Regions from separate parts of the Homo sapiens genome. Here region 1 is linked to region 2. The links come from fine-mapping of genetic effects on gene expression. Tissue or cell type: whole blood. Region 2 holds a variant in brackets; the other region holds the start of a gene. All regions are shown on one strand. Distances are between the middles of the regions.

Evidence for each region. PIP is the estimated chance that this variant, and not a neighbour inherited with it, causes the effect.
Region 1: it holds the start of AK5, and the variant in region 2 is fine-mapped to the expression of AK5 in whole blood (INTERVAL, PIP above 0.99).

The regions. Positions count from the first base shown.
Region 1 is chr1:77,278,261-77,286,366 of GRCh38, reverse strand. It overlaps AK5 (adenylate kinase 5), which reads right to left and starts at 4,348. Exons shown (of 14, transcript NM_174858.3): 1 at 3,994-4,348. The coding sequence starts at 4,053. RefSeq lists a silencer at 4,429-4,488.
Region 2 is chr1:77,427,735-77,435,842 of GRCh38, reverse strand. The region is part of intron 8 of AK5 (adenylate kinase 5); the gene reads right to left. It overlaps LOC124904202 (a long non-coding RNA gene), which reads left to right. Exons shown (of 2, transcript XR_007066178.1): 2 at 2,656-3,110. Among named protein-coding and RNA genes, the nearest start is that of AK5, 150 kb to the right of the region's middle. The variant A/G (reference allele first, on the strand shown) is at 3,840.

The sequences.
Region 1 (8,106 bases), 150 kb after region 2:
GTTTAAAATGGAAGAGCCATTCACTTCATCACAGTGAGATAAAATGCAGCATGTGAAAATGCCCCTGGTCATTATTTATCTCACTCCTACCCACCCTTTATGTCTCTAAACCTCAGTTTCTTCTTTTAGAAAATGGGGGTAATAATAAATACCTCATAGAGTTTTTTAAGAATTAAATAATTTCATATTTGTACAGTGCATATTAAATGCTTGGCACATAGTAAGTGCCCAATAAACTTTGTTGGTTTTAGTTATTATTACTATCAGGAAGTCTTCTCTGAATCCCTAGGTTTGTCTGTGAACCCCTTCTTCTGTGTTCCCATGGTATCCAGCATAAAACATCATACTTGTCATTTATACTGAAACCATTCGGTTATGCAATAGTCTTTCTTCTAAACTATAAGCTCTTCAACAACACAGAGTGAGTCTAATTCATTTTTCAATCCCCAGATACTGATGCTTTCCCTGGCATTTGGTAGGTGCATATTTAACTGTTTTCCAATTGGAAAAAAAAAATCCCTCAAAGCTCAAGTCTAACTGAGACTCAAAAAAATTTAGGTCTGAGACTAAAAAAAAAAATTACTATTTGACATAGAGTAAGTCACTACGATATCCACTGAGATTCCAGAGGGGAAAAGAAACAAAGCATGATCCTGCTATTACTTTTTTGGTTCATGGTGTCTGATGTGTCACTGGCACTAGATTCTAAAAATGCTACCAGTTTGGAAATGCTGATTCCTGGAAGCTGGACTGATGTGCAAAATATTTTCCTTTAGAGTATTTCATGGAAAATGCATAAAGGATTATTCTTACCAATATACATTGTTAGTATACAAAACACCCTTTGAAGGGCTGACATCTGTTTAAATACAGTATTTTATTTTCAATTATTTCCTGTGTAATTTCCTCAGAATGGTAGGCAATTCTCACTAGGTACATTTGTTTTCTGAAATCCTAAATAGAGTAAGCTAGAGTGTGCACCTCCATCAGCCAAGTTCAATTGCAGAGGGAGCAGAAAAAATTACCCGGGCATCCAATTCAGTTTGTTTGTCAAAATCTGTCCCATATACACACACATTGCAGTTGAGCTTCTCACATTCTTCCCATACGCCAAGCCAGTATTAGCCTCATTAATAAATAAAAGCCTCTGTGTCATATATTTATTTGCATACCCAGTGCATTCTCAGCCCTGTGTGACTTTATTATCCCCATTTTATAGATTAGGAAATCATGGCTCAGAGATATTAGTGATGGCTCTAGTTTACTCAACTAGAAACTCCTAGGCCCAGGATTTCAATTCAATGTTTCCAATTCCAAAACCCATATGTTCTTCTCTGTACCTGTTGCAGAAACGTGATATGAGATAAAAGAAAACATGAGATTCTCTGTGCCCTCTGCAAAATGCCCTCTTTTTATCCCTACTATTGCCTGAAATGGGTGAACACTCTCAATGACTCTTTTCTGAAAATATACATTTCCAGCGTCCTTAAACAATACTGGTTCACCAAAGGGCATTGATTTTAAAATGGGACAATGAGCTCCATTCCTTCACGGATAATTCAAATCTTTTCTTCTAATAGCCAGCCACTATCAGGGATTGAAGACAACCAGCACATATTATTGCTCAGTCTCTGAGTGAACCCTTTGAGACCTTGAATAATCTGACTTTCCACAGTATTCAAATTGATTGCCAAATCTCTGCTGTAAGCTACAAGATCAATATACACACCATAAGGTTAGCCAGAATTAAGAACTCATGACAAAATAATAAGAAAGTGGGTTTAAAAAAGTCTAAAACTGGAAACACATTTCAAACATGAACGTACCAGAGATATCCCATATTCCATTTAGCTTACATGATGTCTCAAATTAGGAAAAAATCTGAAAAGGTCAGTTAGATATATTTACTTGTCTGACAATACGTCAATACAATAATCAGTCAGTTTGTCTGTAATAGCGTCTAAAATCCACAGCTGGGGCCAATGTCTTGGTGTTTAGTAGACAGCTAATTGTTAAACTTTGTACACCTAAAATATTGTGGTGGGCAAAATCCATTTTAAAAACCTAAAGTTTTTAGTTTTACAGTCTACACTAATCACATGGAGAACTGCCAGATTTTCCTTCCCTCTTGAGCTGCGCATAGCACAGATTCGTCTTACTGAAGGATGTAGCCTTTGAGGTCACCAGCAGTCTACTTCCATCTTCTCATTGTCCACAAGTGAATCTAAGTCCATTACTGTATTTCACCCAAGCAAGTTGACTTCCTTTTCTGGGTGTGCATTATTTATCCCATTCATATGCAGAAAAGTAAATAAGAAACATAAAACCTTAACAAAAAGGCCTGCCATAACTTATTTGCATGCACAGTGTAGATTTTAATAAACTATCAAACTTCTCTGTGGTTACCTTCCACCAAGGAGGAAAAACAGTACCCACATTTACAAAGAAAAAAAGATGTACTATGTAGGAATTTTTGCAATCACGTGGTCCTCCTACAGATGTTTTTAATGATTCTTTTAGAAGCGTAGAAATGAAATATATCTCAGTAGTAATCTTTGTGAGAAAAACCTTCGCCTCTTAATTTCCATATTTACTTTTTGAAAATAAAAACAAACAAAAAAAACAACTCTTAAGATTCCCACATATTCTCAAGACCTGTCCTTATGCAACACCACCTAATTATTTTCACGCAGGAGTAACACATTTGCTAGATTTGGGCTTCACATACCACGCTTGAGTTCAGTGAGTGGTTTACCTGGAAATCTTGACTTCAGATGACCTGAAAACGGTGGCTTATAGAGGTGAGAGAAAAGAAGACCTGTAATTATGGCAACCCATTTTAAAGATAGTTTAGGGAAACTGAGGCAAAATTATTTTCTCAAGTGGTGCTTTAAAATTCCTTTTAACAGAACAAATCCCCCAAACCGGGGGGAAAAACCCTCATGACCTTTAGTTTACGATATCAGTCTATCCGTTTTCAGAAATGGGGAACGAGGTTTGCAGTGAATGGATTTCTCCTTTCAGAGCTCGCTTAGGAAGCCTGGCTTGCTTCTATTCTTTTCTCCTCCTCCCCCCTACTTCAAGCAAAAGCACTTGAGATTCAGGAATGTTTTTAAATTCAAATACAAAGAGAAGGAAAGGAAGCCAAACGACCTGAGACAGGGGTTGTGGCTTAGAACAGACCAAGGTTCATTCCTCGAGCCTCCTCTCTCTCAGTCTCCAAGTGTCCCCCCATTCCCGGGTCCCGGTGCAGATGATGCTGTGCTGCGGTCTGAAGACTGAGCAACAGGAGTCCGCCCCCCTCGCAGCTCCCTCCCCGACCCGCTATCTCCAGGTGGGTTGTCGAGCACTGGCGAAACCTGCGGCCCAACCCTTCCTAGGCAACGGGAAAAACGTGCTCAGGAGTTCATTCAGCGAAAGCGCAGAGCAAGGCTGGGGGCCTGTCACCGGGGAGGTGGCACTTGATAGGTTGGGTTTTGCTTTTTGCATCTTCATCCCTCTCTTCCAAGCTGTCTCCAGGAAGGGCTGCCTTCGTCCACATTTCCTCTTTCCCCCAGGGGTTCCGACCCTCGACCAGCAGAGTGACTAGGGCTCTGGCTCCCTCAGTTTCGAGTCTTTACTCGCTGCTGGGCGACAGTGCAGCCACCTGACCTGGCCCTCGCCCCCAGAGAGTGCGGCCCGGCCGCGGTCTGCAGCCCACCCTGGGTGTCCACATCCGAGGGGCGCGATGGGAGCAGGCTGCTTTCAGAACCCTGCTGGAAGACTGAAACTTGATCTGTGAGATGCAGGCTTCTAAGCCCAGCCTTCTGACAAGGACCCTGGCAACCCGCGGGAAAGGCGACTACCCTCGGGGGAGCGGGCGAGTGCGCTTCTACAAGCCCCTTCATTACATGCCCCGTGTGGGGAAGGTGGGACGGGGCGCGGCTGCCTCAACCCGAACCCCTGAGATGCAGTCCCCGGATGCTACCGCCCGTCGGCCAGCTCTAGCCCTACCTCAAAAAGCTGAGGGATTTCCCTCCGGGCCAGATACTCCTTGGCATCGTTGGTGTTCATGGCTGTGCCGCGCGTGCCTTGGGGCGCAAGCGGGGAGGCTCCCGGGCTGCGGCGACCTGAGCCGGGGCTGAAGCTGGGGCTGGCAGAGTCCGCGCCGAGCAGCGGTGCAGCCCTCTTTCTCACGCGCACTCAGCTCAGCCTCTCCGCCCAGGCCAGGGACCCCCTCCGCCTCTCCCCGGGGGCTGTGGTCTCCGCGCTCCCGCCGCCCCCGCTTCGGTTCCAGCCCCCGAGCCGGAGCTGCAGGCGCCGAGCAGCTGTGCCGCGGCTTCCCGGGCTGCCAGGCAGCGCGGCCGCCAGGGGTGGGGCGCAGGGAGCGGAGGAGGGAGGACAGCGTGGCGAACGCAAGGCAGCAGCCGGCCCGCCTCTCCGGTTCAGCGCGCCGCGCTCCGCGCCTCCCCGAGCCGGGTCTGCGGCGGCTGCCGGTCACGCTGCGCGGGCTGGCGCGAGGTGCGGAGGTGGGGGCGGGCACGCGCAAGGGGTCGTAGTCATACCCCTCGGTGCGGCACCGGCGCCAGAGCGCGACGCTTCACTGCGTGCGCCGCCCAGGGATGCAGCTACCGGGGACCAGGTGGCCAAGGGAACAGGGTCGGGGTCTGTAGGAACCTGCGACCGTTTCGCTTCTCCGGACCTTGTACGCACACAGACACACTCGCACGCACATACACGGTTACCTCCGGGTCTCCGAGGAACTCCCAGGAAAAACCTAATAGTCACAGGATTTATCATTTATTCCTAAGGTTACGGATCTTTCACTATAGGGAGCTGTGGGGAAGGGGGAAAAGGGGATTCATGGTGTGGAATCCAACCCTTCAGATAATTTTTAGATCTTGAGTATCTCTATCCTTCAGGAAAGTTTTGCTAGCTGGTTTCGAATTTTTACCCTGTCGGTGTCACAAATCTTTATAGACTTTAGGATAAGGCCTTAGTGTGAGCCTGAAATCCTAATCAACTGAAGGACTAATAAGTAGTCAACTAGTTAATTATCTCCATGGAGAAGAAGGGACAGTGGAGGAGAAAGGTGGGTGGTAGTGGAGAGCTAGAGATGCTTAAATTGCAAATGTGTTTAGTAGGTGGGGAGGGTGGGCATCATTAATTAGACCTGAAGAGTGTGCAGTCCGTGGACAGTGTCGTATCAGAGCACCCCTGGGGGAATATGAGTGAGTATGAGTGGGTGCGCTAAGGCATAATGGTTAATGGATCTTCCTGCTGCAGACCATTGTTAAGGTGTAACCCATCTTCCTCCTAGCTCCCAAGATGACTCAATTCCCTGCTAAGATGTCTTCACATTGCCTATTTGGGAGATAGTCCTTGCCCCCGGAGAATATGATCTCTAACTTCCCACAAAGCCTAACACTGTAGGAGGGTGTGTGAGAGAGGACACTTTGGTAGGCACTGGTATCTGGGGTCTGGCTGGAGAAAGAAGCAACGCTGCCACTGCTTTAAAAAACTATAGAGTCTGAATGTCCATTTCAAGTGCTTCTTTGCAGATCTTTTCTTGGTTCTATTTCTTGTTCCGGAAACAACTGCAGCTCAAGCCTTAACTACAGCTGCAGCTTTGTTTTACCTGAGGGAGTAAATGAACTTTTAGCACTTGTGAACCCGTGTGTCATATGGTTGCCTTAAACGAGGCAGGTATTTCAGTTCCATGGAAATTGGTTTTTGCCCTTAGAATATGCCATTTCACTTACAGTCCCAACTTCTAGTATTTCTTTAGCTTATTTAAGATTGGCTATGGCAGTAGTGAAGGCAGTGTCTCTTCCCTATGCAATGATGCTTGAAAAGTACAATGGTCCGTGGCATTAAGGCTTCCTTTGTGAGCAGGCACAGTGGAGGTGAACACGCAGGAATGAAAAGGCCAGTTTCTCCAGGACTTTTCAAGGTCATCCTTTGCAGACAAGAATCTGGCAGAGCATGGCTCACCTGTCTTCCCTTGAAGAAATGCATAATTCTAAGTGTACTTTAGTGTTACCGGACAAGTGTTGGCAACTTGCTTGTAAAAAGAGAATGGATAAGAAAGACTGCACTGCACTAAAAATTGTAGATAGCCTGAAAAATGTAGTAAATGGTGATACGGCAAGTTTTCAAGTAGCCTTATGCAGAGACAATTAGTGTATTTTGGTGTGTGCCAGGGTGGAGAGAGATGCGTGAAAGAGGAAGATGTTCATAATTACTTTTGCAAAGGAAGTTGTGGCTTTGTAGGGAGGGGCTACATGAGAGAGATATAATGCTTAAAAGCCAAGCTAATGGTTCAAAAGAGAGGAAAGAGAAAGGACAAGGAACACTAAATACATCCTTGCTGTGGGAAAGCTGGCCTCTCATTCCCTGTGATGAAATTCTATGTGTGGGTATATAGAAGGCTCATGGCCCTTGGCCCTTTGTTTATTTGGGAATGCTTTCCTGCAAGCTATAATGAATCAAAATGGTTACTGCATGTCGGATGTCTTCGGATAGACTCTCTTGTCATCACGTCTTGAGAGAGGGTGCTAGGTTCTGAGATATAGCAGTGAATAACAGACATGATCCTTGCTGTCAAGGAACTTAAATTCTATGAAGAGTGTGTGTAAGAAGTGCAGATGAACAATAAGCAAATAAAAATGCATAGACAACATCACATAGTGATTAAAAAATACAAAGAAGGACATAAACAAGAACATATCAGTTAGTGATAACTGATGACGAAAATCAGAGTTGTTGATTTGAAACAAGGGGGCAGAGGCTCCAGGTCTGTTCTGTGGAAGCAGCTGAGGAAATGGGAGTAAGAATAACCATTAGGGGCCGGGCACGGTGGCTCACGCCTGTAATCTCAGCACTTTGGGAGGCCGAGGAGGGAGGATCACGAGGTCAGGAGATCAAGACCATTCTGGCTAACACGGTGAAAACCCGTCTCTACTAAAAATACAAAAAATTAGCCGGGAGTGGTAGCGAGCACCTGTAGTCCCAGCTACTCGGGAGGCTGAGGCAGGAGAATGGCGTGAACCCGGGAGGCGGAGCTTGCAGTGAGCCGAGATGGCGCCACTGCACTCCAGCCTGTGCGACAGAGCAAGACTCCGCTCCAAAAAAAAAAAAAAAAAAAAAAAAAGAAAAGAAAAAGGAATAACCATTGGGATGATGACTAGGACTTCCAAAGGGCTAGGCATCCTTCAGACTCTTGGTGGGAATGTTTCCCTGAGTCATGATAGGTACAGATGAATGGAGGAATAAAATATCTATAGCTGTATCTATAGAATGCTTAGGACTCAGCCAAAGAAATTTAGAAAGGTACCCTAGCAGGAAAAAGTAAACTTTCTATTTTAAAAAACAAATATGTTGAAGTCTTTAAAAATTACACCATGATGGCTTGAAAGAGTAAATGCCATATATAGAGATTCCTGATTTACCATGTAGGAGTATGTTTAGGTGCTGAGAAAATCTAGCTCAAGCAATGTCTTCGTAATGTCTAGAAATATAATGGTGTATAAATACATGATTTACGAGTCACAATGAAAATAGTGTTTTATGATAATTCATTCAGTCAACAGATATTTCTTGTGCATCTCCTGTGTGCCAGGCATCGCTGGCACTGCTGTGCTGTCAGGCGCGTAGGTGAATAAAACACATGCATGGAGCATTTATCTAGGAGCAGGAGATAATTTGCAACAGATATAATAAACAAGTATATGAAATTGTTGTTAGATGGTGATAAATACCATGGGAAAAGGAAAAGTAGAGGAGGGTAAGGAGAACTAGAAGGCTGGCTTCAGTTTTATACAGAGTGGTCAGGGAAGGCCTCATTGAGAAGGTGAAATTCCAGCAAAGGTTTGAGAAAGTGAGAGAGCAACCACTTCAAATGTCCTAGCAAGGGCAGATTCCTGGCACTTTCTGGCAACAGCAAGGAGGCTAGTGTAGCAGGAACAGGGTGAGGAAGGAGAAGAACAGAGAGGAATGGGGCCAAAGCACTTGGGACCTTGTAAACCATTGTCAGTTCTTCTCTAATGGGAAGTTAGAGAAACGTTTCAAGCCAAGACTAATATGATCTGACTTACATTTTAAAAGGCTTCTCTGTCTGCTGGTTTA
Region 2 (8,108 bases):
ATACATAACTTAGTTTATAAGTTAAAACTTAATTTACAACTAAGATATAAAACTAAGATTTTGGTTTCTTATATTAGAACAACAGAGTTTTCTTGAAGTACTAATCTGCTCTTAGTAAAATTTGTGAAAGTCTTTGATTTTTAATTCTGTAAAATTTCAGCCATCTTCTAAACTGCAGCTTCTTTTTTTTTTTTTTTTGAGACAGAGTCTTGCTCTGTCACCAGGCTGGAGTGCTGGCGCCATCTTGGCTCACTGCAACTTCTGCCTTCCGGGTTCAAACGATTCTCCTGCCTCAGCCTCCTGAGTAGCTGGGACTGCAGGTGTACGCCACCATGCCAAGCTAATTTTTATATTTTTAATGGAGATGGGGTTTCACCATGTAGGCCACGATGGTCTCGGTCTCTTCACCCTGTGATCCCCTGGCTTCAGCCTCCCAAAGTGCTGGGATTACAGGCGTGAGCCACCATGCCCAGCCTCTGTTTTACAGTCTATTTACTTTCCCTAGTTTCAAATTAAAAGTGCTATGTTCTTCATTTAGGATGGTAATTTCATTTCTTGAGGTAAAGTTTTCCTCTTGAAGCTTTTCAGATTCATATCTCAGAAGTACAATTTTTGCTGTATCTTGCAGCACAGGATTTGAGGTCATACAACACTGCCTTCTGCTCTTCCTGTCCCTCCTTGAGAGGATACATCTTTTTGCTTGGCTAGGTTGATAACTCGCTCCTTCAACTTTTTCGTCAGCTCCTGAAACTTTTTTCTCTACTTCAAGCTCTGCTGTTATGACCTGATGCTCAAATGTTTGTCTTGAAGCCCTAGAAAAGCAATGTTCCCCTCCAGTATATCTTGATTCTGCAATCTTGGTTTTTCTTGATATGTTTGAATTGTTCCATCTAACCAGGCAATTTCATGTTTTCACTTTTTTAAAGAGCCATGTATTCCTCTGCTCAAGGTACTAGTTTTCTTGTTTACTTCTTCTATGATATGATGTAAACTCATACCACTGGACCCACTCTTCTTGTGTCTGATTAAATTCAAGTAGTTTTTCATCAGGTTAGACTTCCAGGTTATTTAAACGGGCTTCCAGTAAGAAGCAATTATATTGCAGGAAGCTTTTTCTTTCTTTCCCCCTTTTGGTAATTGGCCTAAGATGAAGATTTTTGTAAGTTCCTGTGCTTCACATTGTCTTTATTATGTTTTTTGATTATTTAGGAAAACTGAGCTTTGGAAAGGTTAAGGATTTTTGTTGGTTTGTTTTATATCCATGGAACTTTCTGTATTGTTTTTGAAGTCTTTCTGTAATCTAATTTTGATCAAGTGTTTTCAGCCTCTTGACAGTTTTTGAAAGTTTTCCCTAGGGTCAAGTTCTAAGTTTAATCTTTCTGACCTAAAACTAATTTTGTGATTTTTCCAGTTGGGCCCTGGAGAGCCTCAAAGACTGTATCTCTCAACTTATAGAGATATTAAATGATTAGGTTTACTTAGTAAATTGTATGGGAAGCATTGTCAAACGATAAGTGATGCTAGATCTTTTTTCAGTTACATTTATGAGTATGTTATTGATATGAATGTTCCAAGATCATATAAAACTCTTAGAAATCTAATATATCAGTCAGAATTCTTATTATGTTGTATGCCGCAAAGTAACCAAATTTCCTTGTCAATTTCTGGTTATCATGAACTTTCATCAAATTTTATTTATTTATTTATTTATTTATTTATTTATTTATTTATTTATGCTTTGCACTCTATTTTTCTGATTTCATCAGATTTTAAGCCACGGTTGTTTTCTATCTTTTTGTCATCCACGGTTACTGGTTTGAGTTCTTTTCTAAAGACATACTCAATCAGATTCATGGAAAAGACTCTAAGAAGTAGTCTTAAATATAAGTTTCTAATAACTTTAAGATCAAAGTTATTAGATAATAAAATAAATAAAAATTATGTACTAAATAAAAATTTTCAGAACTCTAATGAAGAAACTAATAAATTTATGAAACTAATAATCAAGCTCAAGCAGGAAAAGAATTAATTACATGAAATTAAATGAACTGATAAAAAATTTTATAGCCTATTTATTTGAAACATTGCTGGTTCTTTTCCTCAATGTTTTGTTTTCCAGATTGAAGAAAACTTTTTGTCTTAAGCCATCTATAGTTTACAGCTGCTTGGTAAAGTAAACATTTGTGAACAAAAATGAAAGCATTTACTTTTTCTTCCTACCTGATCCCTCCAAAATGGGAAAACTATTCATGACAATATGATTGTTTACTTAAGTTTGATAAGAATCTGTTCTCTTTATTATGGGATACAAGTGGAAACATTGGTTTTATCACAAAAGTTTTGACTAAATTGTCATATTTAAATTGTTTATAGGTACTACAGATAAAGTCTGAAGTCAGCTTTGGTTTGGCTTCCTACCCTCAAGAAGTTTTTAAGTTTGAGATTACCGTATGGTCAAATCACTATTCTTGCTGGCAAAATTTGATAAAACTAAACATATTTTACAAACAAATTAGTCTTACTGTGATTATCTTTGGTAAAAATAAGGATGACTATAGAGAGAATGTTATGTTTCTAAAGAAAAAAACTATAATACACCTATTATTAGGCTGTGCCCCTGTGCATTGTTTTCAAGTTCTTCTCTTCTACCTGTAGATCTGATCAGAACCTGAATTCTCCTAATTTTCTTCAATATTTGGCTGCAACTCTCCAACTAAGAGCAAAAACTGCTCTGTGCTTGCCGCCTTAGAAGATGAAGCTAGACAACTTGATATAAATTTCAAGAGACAAGTCTCATACCCGAAAAAAGAAGGACAAGTCTTGTGCCACACAGAAAGTTCACCAATCCACCTGATACCATAGCAGAGAATTCAAACTGCAAGCCAAGAGAAGTTGATGGCTTCATGCTATAGGCAGCGTTTCCCAAGACACTCCATCAAAATGAGACTCTTGCCCCTCTTAATTTTTCCTTTCTTATGCTTACCTTTTTCTTTGGCAAGATAATGATGTAATTCAGATTTCACAATCAGCAGCTTCTGCTCATAACTTAAAAGAACATGACCTCTTAGGTATCTATTGTTTAAATAAAAAAAAGTCTACGCTTCCACTAATACTACATGTTATACTTGGGTAAATTCCTCTGGGGAAGTTGAGGCCCATATCCACAGAATTTTTTAAATGGGTCACACAGTAACAACAGATGTCATCTAATTCTCAATGGTCATTTGCTTTATTCAATTGTTTGTCTTTAAGACTGGATTCATGGCTCAAAACCATTATACAAACTTGGATTTACCATATTACTATTAATTTTATTTTATATTTTTGTTTTTAAAACTTGTACCTGTTGCTTGTTAAATTTCTGCAGAAGTACAACTCCTAACAGAATAATGCTGGCCCAGTGCTTTGAGATTGTGGCCAAAATACTATGGAATAGACAAAACTGAACATAGCAATAAATTCCAGGTAGACTTAGCCTGAGAGCCATTTCCTCCAAGCCTCCCTTGTTGCTCAAATGTGGCTAGAACGCTTTTGACACAGATTCCTACTCACCAATCACGTCTTCTGATATGGGACCAGACCAACAATCTGGGACACATCCTGGCACCAAGGGACAATGAAAATCTAACTACAGGATGATTGAATGGTGATACTTTCAGAAAAAGATCTTGATCAAAAGGGGGGAAATGTGAAAGTTATCAGAATCAAAATAGAGTCACTTGTGTCAACAAGAAAAAAACAAAACCAAAAACAGCTGAAAAACAGTGCTTGGGAAGGCCATAAAGGGAGGATTCTCACGCACAAGTTCTTGATAACAAAACTACCACAAAAAATTCTGC[A/G]AAAACTACAACTTCACACAAAGGCCATCACAACCTTACACAGAAAACACTTCTTTGAGGACATCTGCCCAGCAATTGCCTTTCCAAACTTGGACTGACACCACCTTTGTTACTTATCCTTGTAGCCAAGGATAATTATCTCAAAACTATTATGTAATCCTCCTCATTTTTTTCTTACAAGACCTTTGTCTTCCTTTACCTCCCTGAATACACACATAGTTTACAATGGCACCCATATTCCTATTGCAATGCCCATTTCTGAATAAATATCATTTTCTGTTAGAGAATTTCCCTCTCTGTTATTTAGAATGACACAATTTGCTAGGATCAAATATTCTTTTAAACCAAGAGATAGCACTCTTGATTTAAAAGAGTGACATAGGGTTATATTTTTAAAGAAGTCAAATATGCTTCTAGTGCTTTTGGGCGTTGGCTCCTAATTGTTCTCTACCCACTTCCTTCCTAAACTGCTTAGAATCCTCAGCTCATTACCACTTATACTCTGCCAATGCTTTGCTCTCTGCCTTTCTGAACCACATATTTGCTAAAATTCCATCACTGTGTGAACCAAATTACTGACCTTCTCTGTGTCCTGCTAGAATTCCACAACACTCAGTATAGCGCCTATAAGAGTGTCTGGCACCTAAGGCCACCCAATAAACATTTGCTAAAGGAATGAAAAAAATGAAAATGATTGATTCGTCAAAATAAATTTCTAGTCACTAATGTCAAATGGGCTCTCAATTCACTAATATCAAATGAAATGCTTGGTAATCCTGTTGTGTTTCCTTAGCACATTGCCTGCTAGATTTCACAACAGTTCAGGCTTCTACTCTCTTGAAACCCTGAAATCTCAACAGATGGCTTTGCCTCTGGAAGTCATCTTACAGGAACTCTTTGACTTCCCACCATTAAATATACAAACCCATCCTCCTATCCTATCAATGTTCCTTCTGTCTTAACCCACACGAGACTCTTTTGGTCTCATGCCAGTCTCTCCACCAGGGCTGGAGAACCCAGTCCTACCACATTCAGATAGACTTTCCTCTCTCTTATACTTGTATATTCTCCTTTTCACAAACAAGTAGACCTTTCCTGTGAGTTAAAACATGCTTAAGTGTCTTCACTTTATAGCGCTTTGTAAAGTTCTCAATTTCCTCCGTGTTTCTATATTCAATGATTATTTTCCAGTCTCTCTCTTCCTTATCTTCTCAGCCACATTTGGCACTCCCTGCCTCCTGAAATACTGTTTTCTCTGGCTTTTGGAACACCACATTCTACTGATTTTCCTCATATCTCTCTAATGGCTTCTTCTACGTCTTTCTGCTCTTTCATCTTTCTCTACTAAGACTTTAAATTTCCTCGGTGTTCAGCTATAGAGCCTCTTCTCTCAATTTTGTTTTCTTTCTCTATCTCATCTCCACTCACAAATTCAAGTCCTATCTATATTAAAAAGGCTCACAAATTTGTATTTCCAGCTCAGATATTTCCTCTGAACACCAGACCTATATATTTAATTGCTCACTGAAATTTTCTACTTGGATATGTTAAGGCACTTTGAACTCAGCATGTCTAAAATTACACTCATGCCCTATCTTTACAGAACTCGTCTTTTCTCAGTGAATGCCACCACTGTCTACCCAGCTGTACCAGTTGAAAACCCAGAAGTCATCTTCAACAGCTCACCCCCTGTTGGCTCCCATATCCATTCCAACATGAAGTCCTGTTGACTTTCGTCACAAGTTCTTCTCAAATACACCTCTTTCTCTCTGTCCCCTTTTTTACTCCAGTGTCACCATCAACTCTTGTTTGGACCACTGCAGCCTCCCACTCTGGACTCCATAGATGCCTTGTTTTTTTGTTTTTTTTTTTTGAACTCCATAGATTGCTTTTCTCCAATGTGTTTTCCACATTGCAGCCAGAAAAATGTTTTAAAAAATAAACACAAATATAATTATGTCAACACACTCTCCTCCCTCCTCAGAAACCCCAACTCTTCAAGGTTCCCCATTGCTCTTAGGATAAAGTCAAAACCCCTAACCTGCTCTACAAAGCCCTACTTTCCAGGCTCATCTGCACTCCAGCTATCCTGGTCTTCTTTTGGATGCCATGCTTCTTCCTGCTTCATCCTGCTATTTCCTCTTTTTGAACATCCCTTTCTCTTCTCCCCAGTTCTTTCCTGTTCTCATACATACTTGGTTACCTATGACCAATCTTACAGATCTCAATTCAAGAATCTCTTGCCCGCCAGGTGCAGTGGCTCACGCCTGTAATCCCAGCACTTTTGGAGGCCGAGGCGGGCGGATCACGAGGTCAGGAGATCTAGACCATCCTGGAGAAGACTTTCCTCACCTCACCAACCACATCTACACACAGCACCATGCACTTATTCTCCCAAGTACTTCACAGTTTTAACTTTATTTCTCTGACTATTCTATTCTTGTCTAGTTCTACTATAAGCTCTATGATAGCAGGAACTGTGCCATCTTTTGCCCACCAATGTATCCCCAGCACCTCATATAGAGTCTGGCACATTGAATTTACAAGAAAAAAACAACCCCATCAAAAAGTGGGCAAAGGATATGAACAGACACTTCTCAAAAGAAGACATTTATGCAGCCAAAAGACACATGAAAAAGTGCTCATCATCACTGGCCATTGGAGAAATGAAAATCAAAACCACAATGAGATACCATCTCACACCAGTTAGAATGGCGATCATTAAAAAGTCAGGAAACAACAGGTGCTGGAGAGGATGTGGAGAAATAGGAACACTTTTACACTGTTGGTGGGATTGTAAACTAGTTCAACCATTGTGGAAGTCAGTGTGGCGATTCCTCAGGGATCTAGAACTAGAAATACCATTTGACCCAGCCATCCCATTACTGGGTATATACCCAAAGGATTATAAATCATGCAGCTATAAAGACACACACACACACATATGTTTATTGTGGCACTATTCACAATAGCAAAGACTTGGAACCAACCCAAATGTCCAACAATGATAGACTGGATTAAGAAAAGGCACATATACACCGTGGAATACTATGCAGCCATAAAAATGATGAGTTCATGTCCTTTGTAGGGACATGGATGAAGCTGGAAACCATCATTCTCAGCAAACTATCGCAAGGACAAAAAACCAAACACCGCATGTTCTCACTCATAGGTGGGAATTGAACAATGAGAACACATGGACACAGGAAGGGGAACATCACACACTGGGGCCTGTTGTGGGGTGAGGGGAGGGGGTAGGGGTAGCATTTGGAGATATACCTAATGTTAAATGACAAGTTACTGGGCGCAGTACACCAACATGGCACATGTATACATACGTAACTAACCTGCACGTTGTGCACATGTACCCTAAAACTTAAAGTATAATTAAAAAAATTAAAAAAAAAAGAACTTGGATAGAGCATAAACCTGAAGACAAGCTGCACACCTCCTCCTTTGAAGCTGGTTGAATGGACAAAGGTACAAATAAGCCTAATAATGGAGTGGAAGGCCTGGGCTATCACCTTCATCAGTGTTTTTGGTTTTGGTTTTTCATCCTATGGGAAAAAGTCAGTACTTTTATTGATGGGGCATTTGTTCCTCTGGATAGCTGAAGCTGCAGAAGTGTGGCTTCAGGTTTTGAGAACCTAAGTGATAGTTTTCTCTGTGTTGAGCAGGTATTTTCAATGAACAAAAAAGTACACAGAGAAGAGGAACAGCACACATTTTCCTTGGTGTGACCTTTGTCAATCTGGTGTCATTTTCAGATTTAGTGTGTGGGCTCAGCAACTCTACACACTCTGCTCAGACCATTAGCAGAAGTTTTACATTTTAATGGAGTCCAGATTATGCACTTTTTCTTTTGTGGATTATACCTTTGGTGCTATATCTAAAAAGCCACTGTCATTAATACGATTTGGAGGTTCTGTCCCATCTCATCTCATGTTGAAATGTGACCTCCCCTGTTGGAGATGTGGCCTATGAGAGGTGTTTGGGTCATGGAGGCAGATCCTTCATGAATAGCTTGGTTCTGTCCTTGTGGTAATAAGTGAGTTCCCATTTTATGTGTTCATCTGTGAACAAGGACACTTTTATTTATTCCTTCTTAATCTATATGCTTTTTATTTTCTTGTCTTATTGCATTAGCTTGGGCTTCTATGTATAATGCTGAAAAGCAATGGTGAAAGGAGACATCCTTGCCTTATTTCTTTTCTTAGCAGAAAAGCAGGAAAGCTTCAAGTTTCTCATCATTAAGTATGATGTTAGCTG